2 separate regions of the Homo sapiens genome follow, and region 1 is linked to region 2. The links come from fine-mapping of genetic effects on gene expression. A gene starts in region 2. The other region holds a variant in brackets. All regions are shown on one strand. Distances are from middle to middle. Region 1 overlaps KCNQ2 (potassium voltage-gated channel subfamily Q member 2). Region 2 holds the start of KCNQ2 (potassium voltage-gated channel subfamily Q member 2).

Region 1 (5,198 bases), 56 kb before region 2:
TTGTCATCCACAATGTCCTCTCCGGGGAGGCTTGCTTCTGGGGGGAAGGAGACAGGCCGTGAGGGGCCGAGGGGGCCGGGAGACCTATTCCCGGGGTCCTGCAGGGCACACCGGCTAGACAGAGCGCCAGGGAGCCCCTCGAGGCTCCCTGTGGTGCCCCTCGGGTGCACCTGCTTTTCTGGAAACCCACCCATCTGCACCCAGCTGCTCTCGAGTCAGGACCTTCCCCGGCAGGCTGTGGCCACAGGGAGTGGCCGATATGGGGCGTCAAAGGACATTCTGGCCAATGGATGAACAGAACATGGCGCATCCACGCACAGATGTTAACGGCGGAAGGTGCAGGCCTGACATCTGAGGCTCAGTGAAGGAAGCCAGACCCAACGGCCCCACGTGGGAGCCGCAGACACGCACGGCCCAAGAGCAGCGGGTGCTGGGGCTGAGGCGGGGAATGGGGTGACTACTGATGGGGTCATGGTTTCCTTCTGTGGTGATGAGAATGTTCTGGAACTAGGCTGAGGTGGTGGTGACAACTCCACCGTGAGCGTGCTACATGCCACTGAATTCCTACACTTTTAAATAGTTAATTTTAGGTTGCACAAGTCTCACCTCAATTTTAGAAAGGATAGGGGGTTCCCACTCCAAGAGCAAGCAAAAGCAGCTGCGACGCCACAGGGTGGCCACAGTAGCGTGGCCACCACATCCATCCCCGGAGAGGATGGACCAGGAGAGGATGCGGCCACACCCACCTTCTGAGTTCTGCCGTGACGCGGCACCCTTGATGCGGAAAGCCTGGCGTGCCCGGCTGCGGTCCCCGAAGCTCCAGCTCTTGGGCACCTTGCTGGGGCTGTCCTCGAGGCTCTGGTCGGCGCTGGGTGACCGCCTCACAGTCTGGGCCTGCGGGGACCCCTTCCCCTTGGCAGCCACGCCTCGGGGGCTGGAGAAGACACGATCTTTCAAACTGACCTTCTGGCTGCTCCCACGGGAACCGACAGACAGACAGAAAAACAGGGAGAGAAGTCACTCTGCAAAGAACACAGGCCGTGTCTGCTCATGGCCGACGCCGCCCATGCGCCGGAGGGAGACACAGGTCTGAAGAACAGCCAGCCACACGGGTGGCTCAGAGCAGGTGCCACGGGGACCGAGCACCCGGCGGGAGGGAGGGAGGGGAGGCCACGGGGACCGAGCACCCGGTGGGAGGGAGGGAGGGGAGGCCACGGGGACCGAGCACCCGGCGGGAGGGAGGGGGGGAGGCTACCGGGGCCGAGCACCCGGCGGGAGGGAGGGAGGGGAGGCCACGGGGACCGAGCACCCGGCGGGAGGGAGGGAGGGGAGGCCACGGGGACCGAGCACCCGGCGGGAGGGAGGGAGGGGAGGCCACAGACACTGAGCACCCGGCGGGAGGGAGGGAGGGGAGGCTGGGTGGGCAGCAAGCTCCCCCGGCTGGCTCAGGCGTGGCCAGAGGTTGGCCATGTGGGGAGAGTTGATGTCTGTGGACTCTTAAATCACTTTCCGCTACCACCACGAGGTGCCGGAGCCTTCCTCACACTGTCCTGCCAGCCCCTCACCCAGTGACACTCAGGGCAACGGGCATCCCAAACACCGGGGCTGTGGCTCTTCCTCGGGCACCTCTGTCTGCCCCGGCCCCGCCCGTGGTTTCCCCTGTGGCCTTTTCACACCCGTAACTGCTCCCAGGAAGCAGCCTCCCTCCTCCCCTCCCACGGCCTGTCCCTCTCCTTCTGCCCCAGAGTCGAGGGGCCAGGGGACAACAAGGACATTGGGGGCCAAGTCTGCGGTGGACCCTTGTTCAGCCACACTCCGGCCTTTCCACCCACCCCGGGGGCCTGCCTGGTGGGATGGGCTTCAGGAGGGCTCAGGCCTCCCCTGTCAGGCTCCCCTCCCACCAGGTCCGTGTCAGAGAACTGCTCCTTCCGGCTTCTGGAAGGAAGGAATGGATAACGGGGCTCCTCCGCCAGCTGGGCCTCACTATCCAAGTCCTGCCCCAGGGCAGGGGGAGGCAGCCTCCAAAGCCACAGCGCTGTGGCCCGGCCCCCTCGGCCTGCGAGGCGTGAAGCAGGATTTGCAGCTGTGTCTGGCTGGGTCTCCAGCTCCATACTCTCGGGGGGTCCTTGGGCCTGCCTTGCCCCCGAGTTTTTTGGTGACCGTGGAGATGGGTTTGCACCCGAGTTCTTCAACTCCAGCGTCCGCCGGGCGACAGTGAGGGGAGGGGAGGGTTCACTGTGGTTGGTGGTTGGGAGACGCCAGGCAGATGTGGCCTCCTGAGGTCTGGAAAGCATCAGAACCCCCTGGCTCCCTTGAGGACAGTGGGGCTCTCACGAACTGGGGACCCGCTCATGCCCAGCCATGCTTAGCAGCCACGGAACTTCTCAGGGTGGTTCTGGGCAGGGCCCAGAGCAC[T/C]GTTGCTGGAGCCTGAAACAAGCCTTCGGGTGGGGAGGCCCCGCAGATCCCTGACACACTTCAGAGAGGAAGCCCAGTGCCTCACGGGCTCCCTGATCCCACGGCGGCTCCCCAGCCAACAGCGAGGGACTGAGGCCCCGGTCAGCAGCCACCATCAGCCCCGACTCCAGACCCACAGCCAGAGAGACACGCCCACCAGACGGCACAGAGATAACCAGCCACAGACATGAGAGCCCACCGCGCCCGTCTGCCTGGCCTGGACACGCGGATCGCTTGGCTGCCCCTCCCCACCCCATCCCCCAGGCAGCAGGTGACCGCCCAGACCATCTGTGCCCACTCAGCAGACCATCTGTCCCCACTCAGGCGTCTCTGAGAGAAAGAAAGAAGCCCCTGGGTGTTGTGCCCGCTCGGGGAAGCAGAGACGGAGTGGCCGAGATCCCCCGAGTCCCGAGGCGTCGCGTGCTTGGGGACGTCAGGAGCCGATGGTACAGGCTCGCTCAGGACCCCAGTCCTGAGTCCACACCCCTGCACTGCCTGAGGCCAACACACCGTGCCCATGGGGGCCAGGGGTGCTCAGAGTCCTGGTGCTGTGGGTGCCTCTGTCCCAACGGCCTCTGGTCCCCATCCCAACAACAAAAGCACAGGTGGTCGGGGAGAACCGGACGGGGGCCAGGGGAGCACATGGGCACAGGCTCAGCGGGACTCCTGGAATGTTCTCTCTTTCTCCACCGCACGAGCCATTTCAAAGGCAAGAATAGGCCCCTCCTGACCCCGCTCAGGCAGGCCTCAGGGCAAGTGGGAGTCACTGGAAGACTCAATTCCTCTCTCTGCGTTTCCACCCGAGGCAGGTCCAGTCACCAGAGAGAGAAGCAGCCACCTCCTTTCTCACGGCAGCTGGCAAAGCACCGGGTGGAGGACAGAGCCGGTCGGCCCAACTGTAGCTTCGGGGCTGCCCTTGGCTGGTCTCTGGGCAGAGCCCGGTGCTGAGGGCTTGCAGTGGGAAAGGCACAGCTTGAGGAATGGGCATCAGATTCCCACCTGCGGCCCCGGAGGGGAACGGGTCAAATACCCAGGCGGCCACACAGACGTGCGGGCCAGGAAGGGTCAGGCCCCACAGTCCGCAGGGAGTTGCAGGAAGGGAGTGGCGTGGATTCCACAGGCCCCAGGAGAGAAGACCCAGCCCCGACGTCTGCTTCCCATTTTTCAGGGGGGACCCCCCGCTGACCACGACAAGGAGCCACAGCCCCGCCAGCGGCAGACACACCCTGCTGGACCCGATGCCCAGCACAGCCCCAGGGGCCGCCGGGACGCAGCCCACGTGTACTGCCCCAGACAGAGCCGGCGGGAAGGAGCCTGCCCTGGCCTCGGCGCGGCCCTGCTGTCCCGGGTCTCGGGCTCCGCTCCCACCTCAGATCTGCGAGGGAGGCTCTGCCAGGAAGAGGAGGGTGGCGCGACCTGGACATGTCCTTCCCTCCCCTGGACCTCCACCATGACCCAAACTCTGCACCCTCCAAGCACAGCTGGTGAGGCTCCATGCTGCAGACACCCGACCCCGCCAGCCTGCCTCAGCTGCCAGGAGCACGCGTGGTCTCGCAGGCCCTCCCTCGGCCACAAGCCAAGAACAAGCGCACGCGAAAAGCTGCCGCCACCCACCTGGGAGGAGCCCTCGGCCAGAGCTGCCCTCTGTGTGCGAGGGGCGTCCGTGGCACCTACGCTTGGGGCTTACGGGGCCGGGGCAGGCTCAAGAAGCACCTGAGAGCGCGCCATCCCCACCCGGCCTGCCACCCTCCCTCCCAATGGTGAAATTCAGATGTGCGGTGCCCGCAGGAAACAGGAGGCTGAGGAGCATCCAGACCCCTGCCCAGCTGGTGTCCGGACCAACGACGCCCAGGAAGCGTGAGGATGAAGGGGCCTCCCGTGGGGGCTGCTCGCAGCAGGACAGGGCCTGCCCTGGGTTGTTCTCTGGCCTGGGCTCCCACCCCCACTTTCAAACCCCTCTGGTCCCCAAGCAGCCTGACCTCAGCCCCTGCCCTGAGGGACCAGCCTGCGGCCAGAAGCACCCTGAATAGATGCTCCGGACACGCAGGACAGCTGCTAGCGCCCCAGCAGGCCATGCCCCAGGCAGCCCACACGCCCGTCTCCCTCTCTGGAGCTGCCAACAGTCTCCCCGCAAGCACCAACGCCCCCAGAAGCACACAAGCAGCAAAGTCACAGGGAGAGGGTGGCATGGAGTCGCGGGCCCCCCATGGAGCAGGGTCCGAAGCATGCACGGATGCAGATAGGCAGCATGCAGCCCCACCAGCCCTCCAAGGCCAGCACCACCGGCGGCATGCACATGCCAAGGAGAGCCCCACAGGAGCACGACACAGCCACCTCCACCTTGCTGGGCTGTGCTGGCCAGGAGGGAGGGGCCCCCAGCGCAGGCCTGCACACACCCAACAGCAGACAGGGGACGCGGGGACAGGGGAGGTGCGGGTCACGGTGCAGGCCAGGAGCCCACGGTGCAAAGGGGGCGGCTCCTCCCCCGTCCTATTTCCACCTGCCCTAAACCAGGCCTGTTGTTGGGAGAGGGAGCCGCGGGCCTCTGGCTTTCTGGGGCTTCTGATGCATCAGGACCCTGAGGAGCCCGGCACACACAGACGGAGCTGCCTCCCGCGGTCGAGGCAGCCAGGAAGGCTCAGTCATCCTCAGGTACGCAGCAGAGGTGCTAGAGTGACAGCCCCAGGGGAAACGCTCCCTGAAGAGCAGTCGGGGACCCCAGGAGGCACGGACGCCTTGCTGGG
Region 2 (5,501 bases):
GGGACAGCAGCAAACACCACACCAGGGGTCTGGGAGCCGGGCGGTGAGCTGCACCAGCAGTGCTGAGCCACATCCCCTTTCACAGAGGGCACTGGGCCGGCCTGGAAGAGTGTGATGCCCCCCAGCAGTGGTGTTCACAAAGCCCTGGGTTGAGAAGCAGCTGTGCCGACGTTACCGACGGAAAACTGAGGTTTGCAGAGGTTCTGAGACCAGCCCCCAGTGTCCAACCCGAGGCAGGACCAGAAACCCTGCTCTCCAGCCCCGCCGCTTAGAAAAAATCCCCCTCCCAAAGGGGCCGCCTCCCTGAGTCCAAGCCACCCCTGCCCACAGCAAAGGAGCTGAGGAGAGCCTGGGAGCTCAGGGAGGTTCAGGGAGCTCCGTGCCCACAGCAAAGGAGCTGAGGAGAGGCCTAGTGCAGGCTGGAAGGCGGGGCTGTTCAGACGTTGAGGGTCTCGCCTGAAGCCCCCGCATGCTGCTGCTCTATCTTAGAGGGGGCCCGTCCGGACTGGGGGTGGTCAGGAAGAGACGGCTCAGACCCCACATGTGCAAGTGTCCCCATGCTTTGCCCCAGTTCTGGACTGCTGCTCTCAGGAGGCAGAGACAGGAAGGAGAGACAGAGGGGCTGACCCACGCAGGCCCAGGCAGGGGGCGGCCATGCGGAGAGCTGCTGACCCAACGGGAAACCTCAGGAACAGCCACGCTGGGCCCTTGGATCATGGACTCAAAGCAGAACCAACCCTGGGTCAGACGCAGAGCGGGGCGCTGGCCAGGCTGTCAGGGCAGGAGGGTTGTGGGGGTGGGTTCTATCCTACCCTCCTCCGGGGAGTCACCTTGGGCAGGGACCTGGCTGACCAGTACCGGCCCACCAAGAGCCCCTTTGGCCCCCAGCCAGGTGGGGGCCATCAGGGGAGGCCATTCCTGAGAACACAGAAGCTCATCTGGGGATTCGGGAATGAACCCTGGACTGGAAAAGCTAGACTCACCTCCTGGGGGCCACAGGGCTTCCAGGACCCAGGAGGTCGGAGAAGCTTCTGCTTGGGGAGTCCCAGGCTGGGTGCCCAGGGGCCCTCCACGGAGACACCCTCCCTGTAAGCGGCCTGGCATTTCCCTCTGGGATCTTCTCCCTACCCCAGAACCCTCTCATATCACAGTCCACGGAGGGTCTGCTAAGGGCACACTCAAGGCCACACGCAGGCTGGGGCACACTCGTGGGGCACACACCCCTCTCGGCCCAGGTGGGCGCCCGACCAGCTTGTGACCAGTCTGCCCCTCACTCCCATCCCAAAATGCCTCTCACACAAAATGGCCGGTCCCGGAGCTCAGCGGGTCCCTTGTTCAGCTGGGATGGGAGAGCAAGCGCCCTGGCGCGGGGAGGCTGTGCACACCGGCCGCACAGGCCGCACACGCAGCGGGCCGTGCAATTCCACATGCGAACACCCAGGTGCACACGGACGCAGGCTTCGGCCGCCCCCCGCCAGCCCTGCCCCAGGAGGCAGCCGTTCCCTGAGCCTCGCCCGGGAAGAGGGGACAGCCCCTTCCAGGCCCAGGGCTGGGGGTCCCAGGTCTGCCGCAGCCCCTCCCCCGGGCCTCGCTCTGCCAAGGAGGGGTCCTGAGCCCGGGATGTGCACGGGGGCGGCCGGCGGCTGCAGAGATGGGACAGCGCAGGAGCTGAGCGCAGGAGCTGAGGGGGTTCGCGGGGCCAGGGAGGGGCGTCGGCGCCGAGGGGGCAGGACAGACAGCTGCGCTCAGCCCGGGCTGGGGTGGGGGGGTCATGGGAGGGCCCCTCCCCCATCTCAGGAACCCAGAAGCTCACCCTAGTCTGAGGGAGAGCGGCTCGGGAGGATGGCGGAGGACAGGCCAGACCCCTCCCCCCCGCCCTCGCTTGGTCGGGCGGCCCCAGCCCCGCGGGTCCCCGAGAGTCCCGGAGAGTCCAGACCCAGCGCTGCCGCCGTCCCTCCCCGGCCGGCCCTTTGTTCGGCGCAGAGGCCGCGGGGAGGGGCCTCCCAGGCTGAGGAGGGGGCTGGGGCGGCCGCACGTCTCTGTCCTGCGGGCCTGGAGCCCCCACCCCGACCTGAGCGGCCCCGACCCCGGAATCCTTCCTGCCCGCGCGCTGTACAATCGCTCTCCGGTCTCGGCCCAGCACTCCCGCCGGGGAGCGCCGGCCCCGGACCCAGACCCAGGGGCAGGGAGCCAAACCCGCCGCAGCCAGCCTGGCCGGGGTCGCCGATGGGGTCGCCGATGGGGGTCGCCATGGGGGTCGCCACGGGGGCCCCGCCGGCCACTCACACGTAGGCGTGGTAGATGAACGCCCAGCCGCGCGGCCGCTCCAGCACGTTGTAGAGGAAATTCTGCAGCTTGCGGTAGAAGGCGTTGCGCTTGGGGGGCTTCCCGGCGCCCGCGCCGCCCGCGCGAGGTTTGCTGAGGATGCTGCCGCGCTTGGGGGCCTCGGAGCCGGCGATCAGCAGCGCCCCGTCCCGGGTGGAGTCGGGCGCGCCGGGGTCCAGCCCCACGAAGCCCACCTTCAGCTTCTTCTCCCCGCTCGGGCCGGGGTATACGCCGCCGTTGCGCGACTTCTGCACCATGGTGCCTGGCGGGAGGCGCCCCGGGTCGGGCTCAGGCTCAGCGGGGGCGGAGCGCGGGGGGCGGCGCGGGCCCCAGCCCAGGCCCCCCGGCCGGGAGCCGCATGGCCGAGGCGGCGGTTCCGCACTCCTGCCGGGCTTGGGCCGCGCGCGGAGACGCTGCGGCCACCTCGCTCCGCGCGCACCTCGGCGCCTGGCCCGCGGCCGCGCCGGCTCCGCCCGCCGCCTCGCCCCGCCCCGCGTTAACCCCCGCGACGCCAGTCGAAGGAGAGGGGAGGAGAAGAGAGGGAGGGGAAGGGAGGGGAGAGGGAGGGACGGGGAGGGGAGGGGAGGGGGGAAGGAGAGGAGAGGGGAGGAGAGAAGAGGGAAAGGGAGGGGAGGGGAGGGAGAGGGGACGGGGAGAGGGGAGACAGGAGGGGAGGGGGAGGGGAGGAGAGGGGAATGGGAGGGGAGGAGAGTGGCGGGGACGGGGAGAGGGGAGACAGGAGTGGAGGGGGGAGACAGGAGTGGAGGGGGAGGGGAGGGGGGAGAGGAGGGGGAGTGGGGGAGGGGGAGGGGAGGGCAGGGGGAGAGGAGGGGGAGGCAGAAGGGACCAAGGCCCGCGGGACCAGAGCTCTGGGCTGAGCCTGCCCAATCCCCCGGCCATGTGCACACTGACCCTGCGGTCACCTTTGAGTCCGGTAGTACTAACCAAGTGGACCTGCCTGGTGGCCCCAGCGCTCCTGGGGTCCCAGAGCGGTGCCCAGCCGCCTGAGCAGGACTGGAGTCTTCTCAGCTGGGCCCTGGGAGTGGACGCCTCCGGGAAGGGATGGGGGTAGGGGCTCTCCCCAAGACTCTGTTAGGGCTCAGCCCATGGTGACCTCATGCTCTCGGTGTCAGGGTTGCCCAGGCAGTAGGACCCCCTAGACCCCAGGGTGTGTGCAGGGAGGGTCTGTGGAGGCTGGAGGCACCCTGCAAGGAAAGCAGCCCAGGGGAAAGGGGGTGGCCACAGAGGCCGGGAGGCAAGAAGAGGAGCAAGGGCCATGGGGTGGGGGATGGGAGAGAGTCACTCCTAGAGGGCCTTGAAGCCCCCCAAGGGGCCTGGACTTAGTTATGCAGACCCCAGAAGGGGCCTGTGGCAGGGGCAGGGACTGGAGGGTGGCCCCAGGGCAGCAGACAGGCCAGCAGGAAGCCCAGTGCCACACCTCGGGACAAAGGAGGCAGATCTGTGCCTCCTGGACACAGATGGGACGGTGTTTCCTTGGGGGCAAGTGCGCGGAGGTGGCCTCCCCCCTGCCGGCAGCCATGTGTCCTGGGAGGGGTCCCTCTGGAGCTGCTGCTGGGAGACCAAGGGACCCCTGCGGCTCAGTGCTGCCCGCCCTGTGAGGTGCCCCGCCACTGGGCCTTCCTCTGCACATCCAGGAGGGGTGTCATCTTCGAGTGCGTCTCTGACTACATCCAGCCTGTTTGCACGTTCGCCTGGCACCATGGGTTCTACCCAGAGAAAGGCCCTCTGCTGAATCGCTGGCGCCGTCCTCGCAGGTGACCTGCTCATAAAACAGCCCTAACCCTGGTGCAGAGTGAGCTCTTGAGTTGTGTTTGCCCTTTGGTTTCCAGAGCTAGTGGCCACGGGGCCTGTTTTTGTTGTTGTTGTTTTGTTTTTAACTAGGCTGAATACAGAAGGGTCGGTGCAGGCAGAATGCTAACCTGTACGTTATCCAGGACGTTGGGGATAGACGGCAACTTACACAAGCTTGTGCACATCCAGGGGTACTTTCTGGATCCCCGCCTCCCTGCCTCTGTGCCCACGCATTGGCTGTGATTACCAGCATGAAGTGGGCTTGCCCCAAGCGGCTGCGGTTTCTCTCGATTGTTAAGGGAGGAGGCACCAGCCTGGTGCTTTCAGGGGAGGGAGAGGACTTCAGTATGCAGAAGGAAGAGAGCACCGTGGCATCTCCCTGCACACGCTGGCTGGTGCCGCTGGTCTTTCCCACTCACCAGAAGACCCGAGGGAGCAGCCGTAGCTCAAAATGTAAACCCTGCAGGGCTGGGGCCCCTCATCCTGTGGGGGGAAGCCCCAGACTATCCGGTGCCCCTCGGCAGTGCCCGGGCTACACGTGACCTCTCCTGGGCAAGCAGTCATCTCAGGTTTGATGTCAGAGCCCAGTGGGACCCAAGGTCAGGGCTGATCCACAGAGGATGAAGGAAAAGTGACCCCAGTTCCCGTTTGAGCAGATGCACCAGAGCTGAGATGGGAGCAAGGATTAAGGTGCTCTGGTGTCCAGGACATTGGGAGAGACAAACCTGTTCATCTTATTTTTCAGAAAAAAAAGGGGAAAACCCTGCTGAGGTCTTGGGGAGCCATCGGCTGGCTTCACAGCCTCCTGGGGGTGGCCGAGAGTGGCATCCCCCGTGGGGATGCCGGGCTGGAGGGGCCGGCTCAGGATGCAGGTGGAGCTTTGCACCCTGCAGCTCGCGGTTCTCCCGTCTACAAATGGCGTTGGCTCCAGCAGCTTTGCCACACCTTGGAAGGTTCTGGAAAGTGAATCCTGCATCAAGGCTTGAAAATCCTTGCTTCCTCCTTTGTTTAGGATGTCCTTTCAAAGAGCTAGCTCATTAATCATTTATGTTTTTAATTTTGTGTCTTGCACACCCACGGGCTACATTGTCAGCAATCTGGTTACCCGCATGCCTGCCCCCTGTCCCCTCCTCTGCGCCCAGGCAAAGTGGGTCGTGAAAATGCCCAGTTGGGGTAAATTTCATCCAAGCAGGAGGAATTCCATTTATGTAAAAATAGATGGGAAAAGCGTTCAGGCTCAAACAATCTTTGCCAAGACCGCATCGACAGGACTCCAGAGAGGATGAGCAGAATTCAGACGTACGTGGTGCCCAGCTCCAGCGGAGGAGACAGTCAGTCTTCGCCCAGGCGGCCAGGGCAGCAGC

The links. PIP is the estimated chance that this variant, and not a neighbour inherited with it, causes the effect. A credible set is the group of variants that fine-mapping cannot tell apart.
Region 1: its variant is the best candidate, but not a certain one, in a credible set for the expression of KCNQ2 in cerebellum (GTEx, PIP 0.70).

Annotation. Positions count from the first base shown.
Region 1 is chr20:63,414,157-63,419,354 of GRCh38, forward strand. It overlaps KCNQ2 (potassium voltage-gated channel subfamily Q member 2), which reads right to left. Exons shown (of 17, transcript NM_172107.4): 13 at 747-970; 14 at 1-37. Among named protein-coding and RNA genes, the nearest start is that of KCNQ2-AS1, 32 kb to the right of the region's middle. RefSeq lists an enhancer at 3,400-4,047. The variant T/C (reference allele first, on the strand shown) is at 2,416.
Region 2 is chr20:63,469,882-63,475,382 of GRCh38, forward strand. KCNQ2 (potassium voltage-gated channel subfamily Q member 2) reads right to left here and starts at 2,774. Exons shown (of 17, transcript NM_172107.4): 1 at 2,287-2,774. The coding sequence starts at 2,582. RefSeq lists an enhancer at 1-603.